2 linked regions of the Homo sapiens genome follow. Each later gene encodes a partner of the first gene's protein in a complex. Each region holds a gene or a part of one and is shown on either strand. Other genes may lie near its edges. The genes, in order: RHNO1 and RAD1. A codon is read from its position in the direction of its gene.

Region 1 (11,351 bases):
TCGCAGCACTGCACTCCAGCCTAGGAGACAGAGAAAGACTACGTCTCAAAAAAAAAAAAAAAAAAAAAAAAAGCAGGAGCTAAACATTGAGCACACATGGATATGAAGAAGGGAACACTAGACACCAGGGCCTTCTTGAGGGTGGAGAGTGGGAGGAGGGGGAGACAGAAAAACTACCTAGCAGGTACTATACTCACTACCTGGGTGACAAAATCATTTGTACACTAAACCCCAGCGACACACAATATACCCATGTAACACACCTGCACATGTACCCCCTGAACCTAAAATAAAAGTTGAGAAAAAAAAGAAAATAAAGGTTGAATGAGTGATTTACACATATATACAATAGAATCTAGATGTGTTATATTGGTAACTGTGGGAAAAAAACCCAGACTACACAATTGGGTTAGATCAATTTTGATTGCTAGAGAAGTATTTAAAATTCGTATCTAGGCCAGGCTGGTGGTTCACGCCTGTAATCCCAGCCCTTTGGGAGGCTGAGGCAGGAGGATCACTAGAGCCCAGGAGTTGAAATCAGCCTGGGCAACATAGCGAAACCCCATCTCTACAAAAAATACAAAAATTAGCTGGGCATGGTGGCATGCACCAAGCTGGCAAGTCCCAGCTACTTGGAAGACTGAGGTAGAAGGATCAGTTGAGCCCTGGAGGTCGAGGCTGCAGAGAGCCATGACTGCACCATTGCGCTCCAGCCTGGGCAACAGAGCAAGACGCTGTCTTAAAAAAAAAAAATATATATACGTGTATATATATAACTGACTTTATCTGCTATTAATATTATATCTTCTAATAAAATTAACTTGTTGTATTCTATTCAATTCATACTGTTCATACTGTTGGGAAGCATCTTTAAAGTTCAGGTGGATTCCCAAAATGAAGACCTCTTAATCATTTCCTGAATACCTACTAAGGACAAAATACTAAACCCAGTGCTGGCTGGAATACAGAGTGACCAAGGGACTCTGCCCTCAAGGAAATTTCACAGATGGGAGAGAAAAGATCCCAGGCAGAAAAATAGCTCAAAAGTTATGCAGAATAGCATGAAGTGGAGAGCTAATACCAGAACTTGGAAATTCTGGTCCATCAGGCCACTTGATCCATTTCCCTACCTAGGAATTCCCTACACTGGATCTGATTTCTTTAGTGAGGGACGGAACAATTCACCTTAACCTGTCGCTGCTCCAGGTGACAATTCTCCTTTTCCTCCATCTCTTGCTTGATGCTGCGGGAGCCCAGTCCATCAGAACTCATCTTTCGAAGCCACTGGATGTTGGATAGGCTATTGTTGATAGTGCAGCCTGCTGCCTCACCATCTGCTAGAGGGAAAATAATCCAACACCCCACTTAGCTGCCTCATCAGATGCCCAGGTGTGTCCATCAGAATTGGTGGCTAGCAGGCCGGGTGCAGTGGCTCACACCTGTAATCCTAGCACTTTGGGAGGGCGAGGCGGGTGGATCTCCTGAGGTCAGGAGTTCAAGACCAGCCTGGCCAACATGGTGAAACCTCGTCTCTACTAAAAATACAAAATTAGCTGGGTGTGGTGGCACACGCCTGTAGTCCCAGCTACTCAGGAGGCTGAGACAGGAGAATTGCTCGAACCCGGGAGACGAAGGCTGCAGTGAGCCAACATTGCGCCACTACACTCCAGCCTGAGTGAGACTCTGTCTCAGAAAAATAAAAAATAAAAAAGAAAGAATTGGTGGCTAGGGATCACTTGTCCAAGACCTCTGCCTTTAGGGACGGAGAACACATGCTGAATCTATTGTGGCTCTAAGTTACTCTGCCCCATTATGCATTTCAGGACAAATTTAGGAGCATAGTTCAAATTGCATTTCAAGCTGAGCCACACTGAGCCTTAGAGATCAATCAAGGCAGGCTTACAAAAGAATTATTGAGATATGCACACCAAAAAAGTCACTTTTCAGCCTGGGCAATATAGTGGGACCCCATCTCTGCAAAAAGAAAAAAAAAATTAACTGGGAATGATGGTGCATGCCTATAGTCCCAGCTACTTGGGAGGCTGATGTGGGAGAATGGCTTGAGTCCAGGCATTCGAGGCTAGAGTGAGCCGTGATTGCGCCACTGCACTCTAGCCTGGGTGACAGTGCGAGACCGCATCTCTAAAGAAAAAGTCATTTTCCTCCTCTTGCTTCAGTTTTCTCCTTTATCAAGAAGGAAAATGAGGCCAGGCGCAGTGGCTCACACCTGTAATCCCAGCACTTTGGGAGGCCGAGGTGGGCGAATCACCTGAGGTCAGGAGTTCAAGACCAACCTGGCTAACATGGCAAACCCCTGTCTCTACTAAAAAATACCAAAATTAGCCAGGTGTGGTGGCGGGTGCCTGTAATCCCAGCTACTCAGAAGGCTGAGGCAGGAGAATCACTTGAACCCAGAAGGTGGAGATTGCAGTGAGCTGAGATTGCACCACTGCACTACAGCTTGGGCAACAGAGCAAGACTCCATCTCAAAAAAAAAAAAAAAAAAAAGAAGGAAAATGAAGTCAGGCGCTGTCGTTCATGCCTATAATCCCAGCACCTTGGGAGGCCCATATGGTTGGATCCCTTGAGCTCAGGAGTCCGAGACCAGCCTGGGCAACATAGTGAGACCCCTTCTTCATTTATTTATTTTTGAGACCCCTTCTTTTTTCATTTTTATTTTTTTTTTTGAGACAGAGTCTCCCTCTGTGGCCAGGCTGGAGTGCAGTGGCATAATCTCAGCTCACTGCAACCTCCACCTCCCAGGTTCAGCGATTCTCCTGCCTCAGCCTCCAGAGTAGCTGGGACTACAGACGTGTGCCACCACGCTCGGCTAGTTTTTTTATATTTTTAGTAGAGACGGGTTTCACCATGTTGGCCAGGCTAGTCCAAACTGCTGACCTCAAGTGATCCGCCCGCCTCAGCCTCCCAAAGTGCTGGGATTACAGGGATGAGCCACTGTGCTCGGCCAGAAGCCTGACTGTTGTAAGCATCAAGACTGACTACACACCTTGCCACTACAGAGGAAAGGCTGGGCTCCCTCACCCCTTTCCCTGGAAGACCACATACCACAGGTCTCCCGTTTCTGCTCGCAAAGGGCTCCAGGTGGTCTAGGAAGATTCACATCCCTAGCTGCAGGTTTTGGTCCCAAGGTCTCCAGGGTCACTTCTGTCCTTTTGGCATCATAGCTGGTTTGGGTTTGAGGCCGGAGTCCTGGAGGCTGAGTTGGGGCTCCCCCACAGCTGATGAGGATGAATTTGTTGGGCCCACTACTGCCACTCTCTTTTCCCTTGGCAGTCAGTGCTGTGATGATGCTGTGAATATTAGCATTGTTGGGGATGGCCACTACTTGCGTGTTGGGCATGGTGGGGTGGTTAATAATCTTGATCCCAGCTGGAAACTTGCAAGAGTTGGACTCTGCCACTTCCTTGGAGGCCTCTGCTTGATTAGACTCCTGTTGGGCAGGGGATCTCTTAGGTTCCTCCTCTGATGTTTCACTTGGGGCATTTTGAACAGGAAGGGGCAGCCTCCGTCTTTTGAGAATCAGTGGCCGACGGGGGCTAGTTTTCATTATGAATCTGCGTTTTCACTCTCCATTGAGAATCACAAGTGTGGACCCTGGAAAATGCAAATAGTGGCAAGATGTTAGAGATTGTTTAGGCTGAGAAGAGGTCCTTTTAGAGAAAGGTGCTCCTCTTTATATGACCAGGAACATGAGCCTAAAGGCCCAGGTAAACATTCCATGGACTTTTGTAAAGACCTCAGATAATAAGGAGATAAGCTTTACTGACAAAAGAAGGCTAAAATTACAGCAGACAGAAGCAATTCAAAGGGCAAAAATGGGACTGGGTTGGAGATAAGACAAAGATCTCCTTGAAGCTTCAGAATATTTGGCTACAGAAATGGATGGGATAGCTACAAATATGTGGAAATCTCTATAATTGCCTACTATAATATAAATAGATCACTTGCAATGACTGTATGGACAGAAATGGAAGATGCTAGAATAGGAAAGCATATGGTAATTAGGAGTCCTGATGAAACTCTGATCCCATAATCCATTCAAGACAAAGGATTTTAATTTTTTTTTTTTTTTTTTTTTTGAGACAGAGTCTCACTTTGTCACCCAGGCTGGAGTGCAGTGGCACGATCTCAGTTCACTGCAACCTCTGCCTCCTGGGTTTAAGCGAGTCCCACGTCTCAGCCTCCTGAGTAGCTGGGATTACAGGTGCCCACCACCACGCCCGGCTAGTTTTTGTATTTTTAGTAGAGACAGGGTTTCACCATGTTGCTCAGGCTGGTCTCAAACTCCTGACCTCAGGTCATCTGCCCGCCTCGGCCTCCCAAAGTGCTGGGATTACAGGCGTGAGCCACCGCGTCTGGCCAAGCCTTTTGATTTTTATATTACTTTGTAAATAGGACCAGTGCACACAGAATCAGGGAAGAAAGGCAGATTGTACTATTGCCACACTACTGGAAAAATCATCTCCCAGTTTACAAAACCTCACATAAAATGGAAACCTCTACTGAAGGCCCATGTAAAGTTGTGCAGCTTGTGCACTGAACAACTCTAGAGGGTGACATTTATTTCACAGGCTATTATACTTGCTCTAATTTAAAAAGCATGTTTTCTTTTACAATTTGTATTGTATTTATACAGTGGCATTTTAGTACTTGCATGTGGTTATATATATTTTAACTAAGCATGCCACTTTATTAATTTCTTTTCCAGAAATAAGACTATAACCCCTGTCTTCTTAGTACCACAATGAGCTATCATCATTACACTAAGGTGGTTCTGAAATGCTAACAGTGTAGTCTTTTTTTTTTAAGTCTTTTGTTGATTTTTTTTAATTTTTTTTTTTTTTTTGAGACGGAGCTTCGCTCTTGTCACCCAGGCTGGAGTGCAATGGCGCAATCTCAGCTCACTGCAACCTCGGCCTCCCGGGTTCAAGCGATTCTCCTGCCTCAGCCTCCCGAGTAGCTGCAATTACAGGCATGCACCACCATGCCCAGCTAATTTTTTTTTTTTTTTTTTAGTAGAAACAGGGTTTCACCATGTTTGCCAGGCTGGTCTTGAACTCCTCAGGTGATCCACCCGCCTCGGCCTCCCAAAGTGCTGGGATTACAGGCGTGAGCCACTGCGCCCGGCCTTTTGTTGATTTTAATAGATACATGGAATATTCTACCATTAAGCAAAATTGTGTAATTCTATTTCACGGAACTTTGGAAGACAGAGGAATTGGCTGTCTCTTTTTTAGGACACTTATTCTCTCCCTGAAAAGCAACTGCACTTTTTTGACATTTGTCATCTGCATAGAGTTCACAGGCCCTCCACACCTCTACCTTCAAATCTCAGTTTTACTTTCACCTCCGATCTTTCCAGGCTTCCCTCTCTCCCCGCATCAATCAGTAGATATTATTCCTCTTTTTCCACAGGATATCTAAGTCTTAATTTTCTCTTCTACTTCCTGACCAGCCCGTTATTATTATTGCCAACACTTTCTTGCCCGGGAAACTTCCAGAGTGGCTCCTCCGACCCATCCCCATCCTGAGCGGGGAAATCTTGCTACATTCTCAAGAACCAGGAAAAGGGCCCTGCAAAAGGGTAAGTAAGATGGAGGCGGTGTTGCCTAGTGGTGAGACAGCCTGGGAGCAGGGGAGTGTGTATGCAGGTTGGTCTTTGACTCAATGTAGTACAATCTCAGTCTTCATCTCAGCCACAGTCGGCCTAAGAAGGTAGGCCACCCCAGCCCTCCCGAGGCCGCGGGCAGGGTGCGGAGGTCAGACTTCCAGGGAAGGCCAAGGGGCGCTTTAAGCAGTGAGAAGGCCACGGCCAGGAGGTGGACGCAGAAAAAACTTGCACCCTGGCTCAGATTCTTCCCGTGTGACCCAAATCTCCACTCGTGGCCCGTGCCCTGCTGCTAGACGCCCTGACCTCCGCGCCCGGAGGCCTTGCTCCCCGCCTGTGCCCAGGCCAGGCCTGGGACTCCATTGCTGCATCCCGCTCACCTCCAGACTGCAGTCGCCGCCGCCGTTAGGCCGTAGCTCCGAAGGCGGGCTCCGGGCTCCTCCAACCTGGGGGCCGAGCCAGGGCCCCGGACGGGGGCTCGCGCCGGACCGGCCGGGTCCCCGGCGGTGCGGGCGGGGTGGGAACCCCGGGGGATCCCGGGAGGGGAGGGGGTCCCGGGCCGGGGCCGGGGGTGGGGTCTGGCACCGGAGCTTTCAGTTTGTTCCGCTGTTTGAAATTGGCGCCGGCGGAGCGTTAAGGTCACGTGACGGAACGTCGCCAATCGGCGCCGGCCTTGTCTCGGCATTCCGGGCTCGAAGGCTGTGCGGTCTGCCAGGAGCTGCGGCCCCGTCCGGCCCGGGCTGGTAAGGCGGACCGCAGGCCGGCTTGTGGGGGAAGAAGTGGCCGTGGGGCCGGGGAGGGGCCGGAGGGGTCCCCGCCGCGTGGGTGGGCGAGCCGAGGGAGAGTTTGGGGACGCGCGGAAGCGGCGTGACAGGCCCGGGTCCCTGGGCCCGCTTTTCCTGCCGCGCTGGTCACGCCAGGCGACACGCCCCCGCTTCCCCTCAGGCTCCTCTGCTCCCCTTTTCAAAGCTCGGCTTTAGTTGATTTCCTCACTGGGGGAAATCGTACCCCATTTTCCCACAGTGAACGATCGTCTGCTCCCCCCGATTAGACTAAGTTCCTTTGAGGGCTGCGTATTATCTCCGCTTTCTTCCATCTTGAAAAAAAATGTCGGCACCATGAACCCTACCTCAGCGCGAAACCTGTCTTTTGCCCCTCCCGAAGCCAAGCCTTCGGATATAATAGACCGTAGTGCTTTATTTATTGACTTAGTCAACCAGTCTAGTTGAGCAACTGCTGTGCGCCAGGCACCGCTAGGCCCTGAAGATACAATGGCAGACAAGGTTCTTTCCTTCCCCTGGGCTCACAGCCCAATCCTGGAAGAGGGGCACAGACATTTTAATCAAATAAACAAATGTGGGCTGGGCATAGTGGCTCACGCCTGTAATCCCAGCACTTTAGGAGGCCGAGGCGGGTGGATCACTTGAGGTCACGAGTTCGAGACCAGCCTGGCAACATAGCGAAACCGCTTCTCTACTAAAAATTAGCCGGGCGTGGTGGTGCGTGCCTGTAGTCCCAGCTACTCTGGAGGCTGAGGTGGAAGGATCACCTGAGGCCGAGAGGTGGAGGCTATGGTAAGCCATGATCACACCACTGCACTCCAGCCTGGGCGACAGAGGGAGACACCGTCTCCAAAACAAACAAATGTTGAATTATTGCTGTAAATTGAAACATTAGAGGTTAATGATACTTTGAGTATTTACAATAACGAGATCTTGAGAGGTAGGACAGGAAAGGCTTTTGTAATGAGAGCTTGGTGTGAGATCTGATGCCTTTTACAAAGAAAGGAGGGAACTCCTCTAAGCAGAGGGAATCAGGCGTGCAAAGGCTGGATGGCAGGAGGAAGCACAGTGAGTACAAAGGCTGAGAAATATCTGAGGGGTTTGAGCTAATCGACCTGAATGGAGTGTGGTGTGAGTTGAAGCTGGAGCCGGAGGAAGCAGAGCCTTAGCCATACCGAGAAGTTTTGTGCTTATCCAAGAATTAAAGGAAACCAGTCATAAGCTTTAAGCAGAAGTGAATCCAGGTCAGATTTGCATTTTAAAAGGTCCCTCTATAGCGGGGATTGCTAGAGTGGATTAGGGCAGAACAGTTGGATGTTGCAATACTCCAGGCAAGAACTGCTGGAGCTTGAAAAAGGGTGGCAGGGAGAGAGAGAGAGGAAGAGAAAGAAGGAGACAGAGAGAGTAAAAAAGGGGCATTAAGAAAACATGTTTAAGAGGTAAAGTTGACAGGGCTTGATGGTGGGTTGGATGGGAGGTAGAAGTGTCAAGATTTTCAGCTGCATAACTGAAGGAATAATGACACTATTCCCTGACCAAGGGCCCTGGAAGATAATCACTTTGGCCAAGGGACGGGCGGGGGGTTGTCAGGGGAATGATCGTGAATTCAGTTTTTGTTTTTTTACTACAAAGCAATGCTCAGAATGAGTTTTTTTTTTAATTATATATTTATTTTTATTTATCTTTTTATTTTTTAGAGACAGGGTCTTGCTCTGTCCCCCAGGCTGAAGTCCAGTGGCATGACCTTGGCTCACTACAACCTCAACCTCCTGGGCTCAGGTGATCCTCCCACCTCAGCCTCCTGAATGGCTGGGACCCCCTACAGGCACATGCCACTACACCCATCTAATTTTTGTATCTTTTGTAGAGACAGGGTCTCACTCTGTTGCCCAGATTGATCTTGAACTATTCGGTTCAAGTGATCCTCCCACCTTCACCTTTCACAGTGTTGGCATTACAGGCATGAGCCACTGTGCGCGGCCAAGTTCAGTTTTAAACTTGTTGAATTTTTTTTTCTTTTCTTTTTTTGAAACAAGGTTCTGGCTCTGTCACTCAGGCTGGAGTTCAGTGGCACGATCTCGGCTCACTGCAGCCTCCACCTCCTGGGCTCAAGTGATCTGCCCACCTCAGCCTCCTGAGTAGCTGGGACTACAGGTGCACGCAGCCGTGCCCACCTGATTTTTTGTATTTTTTGTAGAATTTGGGTTTCACTGTGTTGCCCAGGCTGGTCTCAAACTCATGAGCTCAAGCGATCTGCCCACCCCGGCCTCTGAAAGTGCTGGGATTACAGGCGTGAGCCACTGCGCTCAGCCTTACACATGTTGAATTTGAGGTGCGTTTGAAATATCTAGTTGCTGTTCAGGTAGGTAATGGGATATTTGGGTCCCAAACTTAAGGAATTCTAAAATATATAAATATTGAAGTCATCTACTTCTAGGTGGATACTGAAATACAGGCAGATGAGTTTGCCTAAGAAAAGTATATAGAGTGAGAACAGCTCCAAAGCACAACCAGAGGGGAAGGACTTAGACAGCAGAATGAACTGACCTCTAATTAGAGCAGAAAGAAGATAGATGTTGATACGCATAGGTTTGTATATTTGCTTTCTGGAAAATGAGAGTATTTCCTTTGATGTCTTCTGTATTCTTTGTCAAGTAGGAAGTAAAGTCATTTGTTAAGAGAAAAGGGGTGTTCTGAAGTTCTAAGAAAGTGGGCAGGGTGTGGTGATTCACATGTAATCCTAGCACTTCAGGAGGCTGAGGGAGGAGAATCACTTGAGCCCAGGAGTTCAAGCAAGACCTCATCTCTACAAAAAATAAAATAAGAAACTAACCAGGTGTGGTGGTGCTTGTCTGTATTCCCAGCTATTCGGGAGGCTGAGGCAAGAGGATCTCTCGAGCCCAAGAGTTTGAGGCTGCAGTGAGCTATGATCGTGTCACTGTACTCCAGCCTGGGCAACAGAACAGGACCCCATCTCTAAAAATAATTTTAAAAATTAAAATAAAAATGTTCAGGCTGGGCGTGGTGGCTCACGCCTGTAATCCCAGCACTTTGGGAGGCCGAGGTGGGCAGATCACCTGAGGTCAGGAGTTCAAGACCAGTCTGGCCAACGTGGTGAAACCCCATCTCTACTAAAAAATACTATAATTAGCTGGGCGTGGTGAGGGCGCCTGTAATCCCAGCTACTTGGGAGAGTGAGGCAGGAGAATCGCTTGGACCTAGGAGGAGGTTGCAGTGAGCCGAGATCACGCTACTGCACTCCAGCCTGGGCAACAGAGTGAGACTTTGTCTCAAAACAAACAAACAAAATTTCCACTTTATTTATTTATTTTGAGATAGGGTCTGTCTGTCACCTAGGCTAGAGTGCAGTGGCACGATCATAGCTCACCATATCTTCAAATTCCCAGGCTCAAGTGATCCTCCCACCTCAGCCTCCCAAGTAGCTGGGACTACAGGTACATGCCAACATGCCAAGCTAATTATTCTTTTAAATTTGTAGTAGAGACGAGGTCTCTCTATGTTGCCCAGGCTGGTCTTGAACTCCTGGCCTCAAGCAGTCCTCCCATCTCAGCCTCCTAAAGTTCTGGGATTACAGGCGTGAGCTACTGCACCTAGCTTGGAGAAGTTTTAAGATAATCTTTGTGGAGAATGAGTTGATCAAGGAAACAGGATTGCTGAGCAACGTACCCATTTGAAGCTGATGACTTTCAGCAAGTCATGAATTTCAAAACTATAGCCATTGCTACCACTGTTATCTTTTCACTGGATTTCTGTGGTAGCTTTTTGTTTGTTTGTTTTCTAGACTGAATCTCGCTCTGTTGCCCAGGCTGGAGTGCAGTGGCGTGATCTCGGCTCACTGCAACCTCCGCCTCCCGGGTTCAAGCGATTCTCCTGTCTCAGCCTCCTGAGTAGCAGGGATTATAGGTGTGTGCCATGACGCCTGGCTAATTTTTGTATTTTTAGTAGAGATGGGGTTTCACCATGTTGGGCAGGCTGGTCTTGAACTCCTGACTTCAAGTAATCTGCCCGCCTCAGCTCCCTAAACTGCTGGTATTAAGGGCATGAGCCACTGCGCCCGGCCTCTCTATACTTTTTATTCCTTTCCGACTAGAATGTAAGCACCACAAGGGCAGAGGTTTTATGTTATTCTCTGGTATATATTTTCAGCACCTGGAACAGTGCCTAGCACACAGTAGGCACTCAGTAAATATTTCTCAAGTGAATGAATGAGTGAATGAACAAATGGATATATATATTTTTTGTGTTTTCTATAAGATGTTAGTTCCTTAAGAATAGAAACTTTGGCTGGACATGGTGGCTCACGCCTGTAATCCCAGCACTTTGGGAGGCCGAGGCGGGTGGATCACGAGGTCAGGAGTTCGAGACCAGCCTGGTCAACATAGCGAAACCCCGTCTCTACTAAAAATACAAAAATTAGCTAGGCATGGTGGCGTGCGCCTGTAGTCCCAGCAACTCATGAAGCTGAGGCAGGAGAATCGCTTGAACCCAGGAGGTAGAGGTTGTGGTGAGCCAAGATCGCGCCACTGTACTCTAGCCTGCGTAACAGAGCAAGACTCCATCAAAAAAAAAAAAAAGAAAGAAAAAAAGAGAAACTGTGTCCTTTTTTTTCTTAACCTGTATCTCTACTGCCTAGTCATATAAGTCAAAGCATATTATTTTTTGTTGTTGATTGAATGGATCACAAATGCATAGAACCAACCTGCTCTGTTGTGTCTTTCCAGCATGCTCAGCTGCAACTCTCATTTACCTCTCTACCTATTGCATTCAACCTTGTGTCCCACCATTCCACCAAAGAAGCCCTTATTAAAGTTGATCTGGGCCAGGCGTGGTGGCTCATGCCTGTAATCCCAACACTTTGGGTGGGCGAGGCAGAAGGATTGCTTGAGCCTAGGAGTTCCAGACTAGTCTGGGCAACAAAG
Region 2 (11,076 bases), on another chromosome or scaffold:
TTTTAACACGTAAGTGCACAGCATGATCTCAGGGATAGAGAGGTAAATAAGACACGGTTCTTGTCCTCATGCAGGGGCATGGTATGGTGGCTCACACCTGTATTTCCAGCTGCTCAGGAGACCGAGGCTGAAGCACGAAGATCGCTTGAGCTCAGGCATTAAAGACCAGCCTGGGTAATCATAGTGAGACCCCCGTATCAATAAAAAATCATAATAAAAGTTGAAACTAATGTTGCTCATGCATTATCAAGTCATTCGTCTATTTTCCAAGTGACCTTAGCAGTAGTGATAGGCACAAAAACGAGACAAGGGAGAGTCACAGAGGGATAGTTTTAGATCCAGGAATGGAGATAAGGATGCTTCAAAGGATGTCTCTAAGATGTTTTGATTGCTAATCAGAAATTATTCTCATGGGATTAGCACAGTATTGTATTTTTTAAACGTATAAAGTGAAATCTAGGACCTTATATTATTAGTTTTTATTCTTTTATGTAACAATTTTCATTTTTACTCTTTTCATAGGCTGGAATATTTCAGGAGTTTAAAGTTCAGGAAGAGTCTGTTACTTTTCGAATTAATTTAACTGTCCTTTTAGACTGTTTATCTATTTTTGGATCAAGTCCTATGCCAGGTAAACTATGATCAGTATAAAGACATAAAAGTGTTATACATAGTGGTCAGAAAAATACAGGAAGTTATTTGGAACATAAACATTGGTTCAGAAAGCTAATGCCAATTCATTTTTCAGTGGCCACAGTCATGGGTTCTAACATTTCACAATGTTAATTGCAAGTGTGTTTATAATTCTTTTCATATTTGTAAAAGTATTTGCATTTTTTTTTTAATTTACAAGGCTTTGAGGGATTGTAAATTCGAACTGGCCAAAAGAATACTTTGGACATGTCTTAAATATTTTTAGCATTGTGAAATGTTTTAATTGCTTCTTTTTCCTAACTTGTCCAGAATTACTCCGCTAGTTAGTGGCAGAGAAAAACAAAAGCCAGTTCTGACTCCTAGTTTACTATGTTCAAAATTTGTTTCTTTTAAGCCATATTTTATAAGTTATGTCTATTTTGCCAAATGATTTTGTGGTGTTTTTGAGACAGAGTTTCTCTCTTGTTGCCCAAGCTGCAGTACAATGGCACAGTCTCAGCTCACTGCAACCTCTGCCTCCCGGGTTCAAGTGATTCTTCTGCCTCAGCCTCCCGAGTAGCTGGGATTACAGGCACGTGCCACCACGCCCGGCTAATTTTTTGTATTTTTAGTAGAGATGGGGTTTCACCATATTAGCCAGGCTGGTCTCAAACTCCTGACCTCAGGTGATCTGCCCGCCTCAGTCTCTCTAAGTTCTGGGATTACAGGCATAAGCCACCGCAACCGGTTGCCGAATGATTTTCTTTAAAATATATATTTTTTTATTTGTTAAGGGAATTTTTAAGAATGGTGAAATTGAATTGCTGTGGGTATAAAACTAAGGAATCCCCAGAAGAATGATTTTATTTCATAGGAAAGCAACCTGGAGATTAGCTAGGAAAAATTCAATATAGTTCTCCAGAAAAATGTATTTTACGTTTCCACAGACAATTCCACTATTATTAATTATACATTTTCTAATACAGTGTTCTCCAGCTAGTTTTTCACAGAAGCATCTGTCATCTTCCATTCCTCACTGTGGCTCTCAATCCAGTAAGGAGAAGGAGTTTGAATATCCTGTCATATTCCTCCTTCCCTCTAGTGGTTTGCAGAGTTAAAATTTACACCACCATTAACAACCCTCTTTTTCTCTCAATTTGATTTTTAAATTCGAGGAAATATAAAGAATATCTCCCAGTTGGAAAAGTTGGAAGGATCCTTGTCATAGTGAGTACACTGACGTTACAGTACAGATGACAGCAATCCACTGTTACACACATTGAACCTTCAAGGAATAGCATACCCTGTTCTGCAGCAATTTAGTTACTTGCTGTGTTGATCCATATAGATTCTCTACCCTGAAATTGTACATATATAAAATCAACAAGCTATTTCTGAGGTGTGTATGACAACCTGAAAATGATTCCAAAGAATTATGTTACATTTTGTTCTGGTTCCCAATTTTCTTGTAGTTTTGGAATTCTCTACACACAACTGTCATCAGGGAAGATGTCATCCCTTTTTATGAGGAGATACATATATGTGAGAAATTGGGCGGAATAAATTATTCTTGAGAAATTTTATGTATCATTTCGAGGAGAAGCTGAACCCAGAACTATAAAGCTAAGGCCAAGTATGACTTCTTTCCATTGCAGGGACTTTAACTGCACTTCGAATGTGTTACCAAGGTTATGGTTACCCTTTGATGCTGTTCCTGGAAGAAGGAGGAGTGGTGACAGTCTGCAAAATCAATACACAGGAACCTGAGGAGACCCTGGACTTTGATTTCTGCAGCACCAATGTTATTAATAAAATTATTCTGCAGTCAGAGGGGCTCCGTGAAGCATTTTCTGAATTGGATATGACGAGTGAAGTCCTACAAATTACCATGTCTCCTGACAAGCCTTATTTCAGGTACTTGAGAGCAGTGCAGTTATAGTTAATGTGGTCTGTACTCCATCTTCCCACTTAGACATTTGCTTAGGATGCAAAATTTTTATTATCCACATTTTTAGAGTTTTCACAACTTTAGACAGCTTGTACTCTTACCTCATAATTTTATGGATCAAGAAACTTAAGACCCAGGAAGATTAACTCACTATTTCATATTTAGGTGGTGGTGGCATCTAGATGAGAAGCCCAGTCCTCTAATTTATAAACTGGTGGTGTTTTCATTGTACTACTCCTTACTTTCATAGATCAGGTTACATCATGAGGAAAATTGGGTTTAAGTGTTTGGAAAGGGTGTTTGTATTATGGTATCTTTTTCAAGTTAGTTCAGGATGCAGAAGAAGATGTTTTCTACACGTGGCTCATTCATTCACTAAGTATCTGTTGATCACCTACCGTGTGCTTATTCATCTTATTAAGCATTGTGGGAAGAACAGCTTAAAACCAAGGTGAAGCCAAGAAAATGTGAAACAGCAAACCATTAAGTACCAAGATAGCACACACAGATACCTGGGAAATGCTGTATAAGGATTTAGGGAGGATTGCTCAAGGCTGGCTTCCCAAGGGAGGGCAGTTTTCAGCAGGAGTACAATGTCAAAAAAGCTGTTCTTGATAGTTTAACACAAGTCTCTTTTCAGGATTAGACTCAGAGATTCTAGCAATTTAGAGAGAGGATCTAAATATTCTCTTTTTGAAATATTTCAGAATATTAAAGCCCCTAAATACATATGGAATAAAAGGAATAAGGTATTCTTTTTGTAACTACTTTAGAAGAATTACAGGCCCGGCTGTAAAAGTGCTGTGGCAGACACCTGTAATCCCAGCACTTTGGGAGGCCGAAGTGGGCAGATCACTTGAGGTCAGGAGTTCAAGACCAGCCTGGCCAATGTGGTGAAACCCTGTCTCTACTAAAAATAGAAAAATTAGTTGGGCGTGGTGGCACGTGCCTATAATCCCAGCTACTTGGGAGGCTGAGGTGGGAGAATCACTTGAACCCAGGAAGTGGAGGTTGCGGTGAGCTGAGATTGCGCCACTGCACTCCAGCCTGGGTGACAGAGTGAGAATCTGTCTCAAAAAAAAAAAAAGAAAAGAAAAAGAATCACAGGCCCTTGTCATGACTTTGGGGAGTTAAAAATTTGGCTCAAGGTCTGAGAAAGTTAACCAAAATGGAAATTGGAAACCTTACTTTAGCAGTGGAATGAAGTAAAAAATTCAGGTACTTAAAACAGTATTTCAGGGGATCTCCTCAGTGATCTCTCTCAGCCTGGGTAACGAGATGGACCATGGTATCTTTCATCTCCAGGATGGGAAACAATTTGGTGGTAGGGAGGTAGGAGTTGAAATTTTTTCCTGGATATGTTAAATTTTAAGTACCTGCGACACTAGGGAGTGGCTGGATATGTAGTTATGGTGCTCAGGAGATCCATTTAGACTGGAAATTTAGATTTGGGAACCATCATCATGGCTGGGTATGGATGAGACGGGTCAGAGAGAGAGATTATATTAGAAGAAAGAAAAGATGGACCCCAGGAAAACCACACCTGGAAGATGGGAGGCAGAAATGGAGCTTAGGGAAAACCAACCTGGATCTTATCGCCATGCTCATATAATACTTAGCAACGTGCTAATCCTGCAGCAAATGTTCCAGGAGTTCTTGCAAATTAAATCAGCATGTTAACACTTATAAATTGTCTACAAATAACTTCTGGTATTACCAAGTGAGGAAAACCATGCAATAGCCTTAAGAGCAGTCTAAGATACAGAAAAGCTGTAATTCCTAGGTGTAGGATTGGGAACAGACCTAAGGGTTGCAGTAGACTTAGATCAAGGTCTTCCATGAGTCCTCAATTCTCTCGCCTGTTATATATTTCTGACTTAAGGATGAGGAAAAGTCATTTTCAGAGTAGGATTAGGGTAATGAAATTAAAGTGTCCCCTACCCTTTTCCTTTTACAATTGATTTTCTTCAAACCCATTGATTAGTTGTCCTGAACTCCAGTGGGAGCTTTATTATGGTACTTGTTATCGTGTGTTATAAGCATTTGTGTACATGTCTGTTTCACCCACTAGTATGAATTTCTTAAGGAAGTGTTTTCTTTATTTGGATCCTAATGTGGTTTATTTTTGGATGAATGAATAAATGAGGTAATCATTTTCTATAGGTTATCTACTTTTGGAAATGCAGGAAGTTCCCACCTTGACTATCCCAAAGATTCTGATTTGATGGAAGCATTTCATTGTAATCAGACCCAAGTCAACAGGTCAGTTCTTAATATAGAGGTTGTCATTGGTGATAAAGAGGAGGTTAAATACCAGATTTCTGTTAAATAAAAACACTTTCAATCTGTTAATTAAAATGCACAGCATTTTATAAAAATGAATAGTAGAGTGCTGGACTTACTAGGGGATGTAGGGTTCTAACAGTGAATGAATTTTAAAACAGAAAATATTAGCAAATTGGATAAGTACTTGATTTTATTCTTAGATTTGCTACTTTTTATCCTTTACTTGGGAGTTCTGAGCAGTGTTCACTGTGTTGATATAACAGCGTTTTATTTTTTCTTCTACAGATACAAGATTTCCTTACTGAAACCCTCTACAAAGGCATTAGTCCTATCTTGTAAGGTATCTATTCGGACAGATAACAGAGGCTTCCTTTCATTACAGTATATGATTAGAAATGAAGATGGACAAATATGTTTTGTGGAATATTACTGCTGCCCTGATGAAGAAGTTCCTGAATCTGAGTCTTGAGTATGACAATTCACTGATATTTATGTGTACATTTATGATAGATGAAGTTCTTATTCTGAGTACAGTACTCTTTGTCATTTCATATTGGATTTTCTATAGAGAAGAAGCACAATGGGGAAGATAGGAGCAAGGTCATGTACCCTAATAGTTACTATGTTTTGTAAATCCATTTTGTAGAGGGCATGTAAATAAATGTTTTCCTGTAGTCATAGATTATTCAGGACTGTCCTTTAGTTCTGTCTTTTGAACTCATGGGAATAATTGTGAGTCAGCGTAACATTTCAAGAGTCTAAAGGTGGCCGGGTGTGGTGGCTTTAATCCCAGCACTTTGGGAAGCCGAGGTGGGCGGATCACCTGAGGTCAGGAGTTCGAGACCAGCCTGACCAACGTGGAGAAACCCCATCTCTACTAAAAATACAAAAAATTAGCCGGACGTGGTGGCACATGCCTGTAATGCCAGCTACTCGGGAGGCTGAGGCAGGAGAATTGCTTGAACCCGGGAGGCGGAGGTTGTGGTGAGCTGAGATGACGCCATTGCACTCCAGCCTAGGCAATAAGAGCAAAACTCTGCCTCAAAAAAAAAAAAAAAAAAAGTCTAAAGGCTTAAAGTTTGATGCAGCTACCTGAAATGATCTTTTATTTATTTATTATTAGAAAAAGCAAAGGCATATGGGCATTGCTTATTAGTTTGAATTCTAGAGACTAGATCTTAAAGTAGTGGTTCTCAAAGTGTTGTGCCCGCACCAACATCAGAATGGCCTGCAAACTTGTAGCAAACTCTGGGGAGGAGGCCAGCATTCTGTATTTTAACAAGCTTCCCTCAGGAGATTCTGATGCCTGCTAAATTTTGGGAACCACTGTTTTAAAGGAAACTTTTTTTTTCTTTAATAGCATTTAATTGTATGAGATGATTGCTTTTACATGTGATTTCCTTGCAAATGTTCTGAAGTTGAGGCATCACCAAACAAGTCTGAACAATTCTTTATGTGATTTATTTTTAAAGTAGACCTTTTGAAGAGATCTATGAATGGGATATAAAGCAATTTTCAGTGTTACAGGTTTTCTTCTTCTTCTCAAAACTGTTTGCTGTAAGTAACTGCAATCAGTACTTACTACTTTCCATTTGCTTATGAGTTTCTTGACAAATCAAGGTGTAGAAAACCAGTTATTAAGTGATTTTGTACTTTCCTGGTAGTTGTCACTAAAATAATTTTTGTGGCATATAAATATATTTAATAAAATGCAAAAATTATCTTCCTGTCTAGTAGAAAAAATTACATGAGTAAAGTGAAGCTTCTGTCTTTGTTACTGTACCAGGTGACAACAGCTGAGTGTCCCTCCATGGACAGTCACTATTGGCCTTTTGAGTGAGACAGTTCTTTAGGATAAAAACCTGTCATCCCATTGCAGGATTCATTTAGCCTTTCTGGCCCTTACCCACTGATGCTAGTCATTGTGACCACCCCACCTCCCCCAAATAAAAGTGTGCCAAACTATTCATTGTTGAGAACCATTCAATTGTATTCACCAAAATTGGAGGATATATTGGAATGCCCTACCTTAATATAGGTCACATAGCATTAGAGAAAATTGGTTTGGAGAGTATTACAGCAAAGTGTGCTGCAAGGAGGCTACTCCAGCACAATGGCAGGCACTGCTTCCCAGGCATATGGACAATTCTGGGAGGTGGCCAGGGTCAGCACCTGATAACTAGTAAGTGTCTCAATCTCAGCATACAAAATTTAGCAGTGACTACAAAAGAAGTTGGAATTTTCTAAAATGTTTGTATTCAAGAAGGAAACAAATGAATTTACTAAATGTTGTCAGAGTATTTTTTGTTTAGATAACCACCAAGAACAGAACAAACCTAAAAGATACTTGGGAAAATATCTAATCAGTCAACATTCTAAGGACTGTTAAATGTGAAATAGCATAGTTATTTTTTGTCTTTTGTTACTAGTGTGAACAAAGAACGGCGCCTAACATATAATGGGCATTTAGTAACTCTGTTAGATGAAAGACTCTCCAATTTCAGATTTTCTTTTAGCATCTTATTAGTCACTACTTAATTCTGATGATTTAGCTCTAAATTTATTTTGATCTCAGTTTTTTTATTTTTATTTTTGGAGACAAGATCTTGCTCTGTTGCCCAGGCTGGAGTACAGTTGTAGGATTACAGTTCACTCCAGCCTCAATCTCCTAGGCTCAAGCAATCCTCCCATCTCAGCTTCCCAAATAGCTACGACTACAGGTGCATGCCTCCATGCCCTGCTAATTTTTGTATTTTTTGTAGAGATGGGGTTTTACTATGTTCCCTAGGCTAATCTTGAACTCCTGAGCTCAAGCAATCCACCCGCCTCGGCCTCCCAAAGGGCTGGGATTACAGGCGTGAGCTATCATGCCTGGCCTAATGTATTTTTTAAAAGTTGAATCTAAAAAGAATTTAAAACAAATATAAATCAGCTCAGTAAGGATGGATATTTTTGTACATTTAAAACTATTATTTTAGGCCGGGAGTGGTGGCTCACACCTGTAATCCCAGCATTTTGGGAAGCCGAGGCAGGGGGATCATCTGAGGTCAGGAAGTTCGAGATCAGCCTGGCCAACATGGTGAAACCCCTACCTCTACTAAAAATACAAAAATTAGCTGGGTGTGGTGGTGGGTGTCTGTAATCCCAGCTACTTGAGAGGCTGAGGCAAGAGAATCACTTGAAACTGGAAGGCGGGGGTTGCAGTGAGCCGAGATTGCACCATTGCACTCCAGCCTGGGTGACAGAGCAAGACTCCGTCTCAAAAACAAAAAAAATTAAAATAAAAATTATTGTTTTAGCTGCATGTCTTCAGCTATTTAGAATTCAAAGACTAATGAATTGTTTCTAAGTCACCCTAACATCAAGGTACTTATTTTATAAAGAATTTCCTCCTTATTTGTGTTCTAATTGACCCAGGAATTTTTACTTTAATAAAAGTTTAACTTTATTTCCTATGGAAAATCACTAGGGGGAGTGCTCCCTCAGGCAGAGCAGGCGACACTTTGGTGCCACTACAAATTGATGTGTAGTATATAGAAGAATACAGTCTTATATTTAAAGACTTTTAGTTCTGTCTTTTTGAAGTTTATCTCTCTTTCTAGTAAAATGGTGCTTACTGTGAATGGATAATCTTTTTTTTCATTTTTCATTTGTTGATTTCCCATTCGATGATGTAGTGCTTCCACCGAGAATTGATGAAATGCTTCAAAATAATAAAAGTATTTGTTAAATTCCACTTTAATAAAAATAAGGCATGTAACACAGTCATTTTAACAGGAAGCCACAGGGTTTCTGTGGTGTTACCAAAGTCCTAGTAAAAATTAATTAAAATTGCTAAAAGGGCAGAATGTGGCACTCTCAACAGTGGGGTAGGCAGTCCTTCAGAACATAGAGACTTCCTTCTTTCCTTCCCTGTCTTCACATTGCTTGTCCCTTATCCCCACCTGAAATAAAATCTATTGGGTCCTGAGAAATCGGAGTGTATAGTATTTTTTCTTTTCCCAATTATGTTTGTAATTTGCTTTCATTCTCTTTGGAATAGGCAGTGCTGCTTTTATACTAGAATCAGGTTACAAGCACCCCAGGAGGAGTCATTAGCTTTAACAGAATTTCCCTCTCAGGAGTGGACAGCTAGTGTTCTAAACAGAAACACCAAAAGCAGCGGTTTCAAGTGCTTTTCGTATCTGTATCTCAGTCACGTCCAGAGATTTCGATAATCAGCAGAGTAAATGTGTGAAATATATTTTTGAAATTCATAGCTTGTTGATCATTATAATAGATACTAGTAGTGGCTCTCACTGGCAAAACTAGAGGTATTCAGGATATGTGAACTTACTAAATTATTTCAGAGTATTTCCTCATACTAAAGTAAAAAGGAAGTAACAATCTAGTAAACCCTGTGGCCTGTACCCTTAGGCATGGTGCCTGACACTTGATTCCAAAATGGTCTTGCTTCCTGCCATTTTGTCCAAGGATTTTGGTTGCCGTGGCTGACTACGTTAGGACAGTACTATTTCTGGAATATTGTCAAGCCTGCCTTAAGTGGACCTTTAATGCAGTGGTGGGTGAACTTACCAAATCAGCAGGTAGTACGTCATTGAACATACAGAACAGGTTACATAAACTTTTTTTTTTTTTTTTGAGATGGAGTCCCACTCTGTTGCCAGGCTGGAGTGCAGTGGTGCGATCTCAGTTCACTGCAACCTCCACCTCCCAGGTTCAAGCGGTTCTCCTGCCTCAGCCTCCCGAGTAGTTGGGACTACAGGTGCATGCCACCACATCGAGCTAATAATTGTATTTTTAGTAGAGATGGGGTTTCACCATGTTGGCCAGGATGGTCTCGATCTTTTGACCTTGTGATCCTCCTGCCTCAGCCTCCCAAAGTGCTGGGATTACAGGTGTGAGCCACCACACCCAGCCGTTTACATAAACTTTTTTGTTTGCTTGCTAAAAAATGTTTATTGAGCTAGGTGTGGTGGCTCTCACCTGTAGTCCCAGCACTTTGGGAGGCCGAGGCAGGAGGACCATTTTAGCCCAGGAGTTTTGAGACTAGTCTGGCCAACATAGCAAGACTCCATCTCTAAAAAAAATTTTTTTTTTTTAATTAGCCAGGTGTGGAGTATGCATGTAGTCCCAGCTACTCCAGAGGCTAAGGCGGGAGGATTGCTTGAGCCCAGGAGTTCAAGGCTGCAGTGAGCTATGGTCATGCCACTGCACTCCAGTCTGGCAGGAGAGTGGGACCCTGTCTCAACAAAAAATAAAATAAAAATAACAATATTTATTGAAATCTGTATGTGAGACAGCTTGATCTGGGCTTGAATTATTTTTTTTTCTAACTTGGTACAGAGATTGTTGGAAAATAGCTAATCCTCATCCACCTCAAAAATGTCAGTGCTTGTTAGCTAATTCAGAAGAATTGTAAGAGCTCTGTATGTTAGCTCAGATCTGTTAGAAATGTCAGGTGTTTGATTGGATTGGGTTATCCAGATTGGTTGAATTTAGAAAGTAGCTTCTGTGGTTTTGCAGTGAGAATGCAACTTTATATTTCTAATGTGGCTTGTTAAGACTTTGGGATTTCACCAAAATAGTAAAATTTTAAAACTTTTGGGCAGAGCACAGAGGATTTTTAGGGCAGTGAAACTAATATGTATGATACTATAATGGTGGATATATGTCATTATAATTTTTCCAAACCCACAGAATGTATACCACCAAGAGTGAACCCTCATGTAAACTATGGACTTGGGTAATAATGCTGTGTCAGTGTGGGTTCATCAGTTGTCACAAATGTACCGCTCTGGTGGGAGATGTTGATAAGGGAGAAGCTAGGCATGTGTGCAGGTAGGGGGTAAATGGGAAATCTCTAGCTTTCCCTTAATTTTTTTTATGAACCTAAAACTGCTCTAAAAATGCCTTTGGGAAAAACTTTGGGGACCAACATAGGTGCCAACTTATTTTACTAGGTATAAGGATGTTAAAATTATATGATTCAGTATCACCACCATTTTATAAAACATTTTAATATCAAAACCTCAGACAATGGCAACCTTACACTGACAATAAAGAAAAACTTTAAACATTAAAAACAATCCAAATGCAGGAACAGGTACACCATAAAATTTTATTTCACAGTGTTATGCTACTGTTTATTGATATAGGTTTGTCAGTTTGGAGATCTTAGGATTGCAAAATAGTAACATTTTATAAAT

The links.
Region 2: the proteins of RHNO1 (region 1) and RAD1 are in contact, whole or in part, in a crystal structure (PDB 6J8Y), measured with the Homo sapiens proteins. Residues at the interface, in NP_001239428.1 of Homo sapiens: Ser55, Trp56, Val57, Ser58, Pro59, Asp60, Phe61, Asp62, Thr63; in NP_002844.1 of Homo sapiens: Asn47, Gly48, Ile49, Lys50, Phe64, Ile65, Gln66, Ser149 (codon at 2,426), Lys155 (codon at 2,444), Ile157 (codon at 2,450), Glu211 (codon at 4,809), Ala212 (codon at 4,812), Lys240 (codon at 5,205), Val241 (codon at 5,208), Ser242 (codon at 5,211), Arg244 (codon at 5,217), Gln254 (codon at 5,247), Tyr255 (codon at 5,250), Met256 (codon at 5,253), Phe266 (codon at 5,283), Glu268 (codon at 5,289).

Annotation. Positions count from the first base shown.
Region 1 is NC_000012.12:2,870,911-2,882,261, forward strand, and holds the start of RHNO1 (RAD9, HUS1, RAD1-interacting nuclear orphan protein 1), read left to right. Parts: upstream 1-6,312; 5' UTR 6,313-6,372; intron 6,373-11,351. Other genes in the region: FOXM1 (forkhead box protein M1), read right to left, coding at 1,186-1,337, 3,067-3,568. UniProt on the Homo sapiens protein: Involved in microhomology-mediated end-joining (MMEJ) DNA repair by promoting recruitment of polymerase theta (POLQ) to DNA damage sites during mitosis.
Region 2 is NC_000005.10:34,903,025-34,914,100, reverse strand, and holds the end of RAD1 (cell cycle checkpoint protein RAD1), read left to right. Parts: intron 1-522; coding exon 523-631; intron 632-2,288; coding exon 2,289-2,547; intron 2,548-4,744; coding exon 4,745-4,843; intron 4,844-5,152; coding exon 5,153-5,336; 3' UTR 5,337-8,506; coding exon of another isoform or gene 8,507-8,570; 3' UTR 8,571-8,841; downstream 8,842-11,076. UniProt on the Homo sapiens protein: Component of the 9-1-1 cell-cycle checkpoint response complex that plays a major role in DNA repair. The 9-1-1 complex is recruited to DNA lesion upon damage by the RAD17-replication factor C (RFC) clamp loader complex.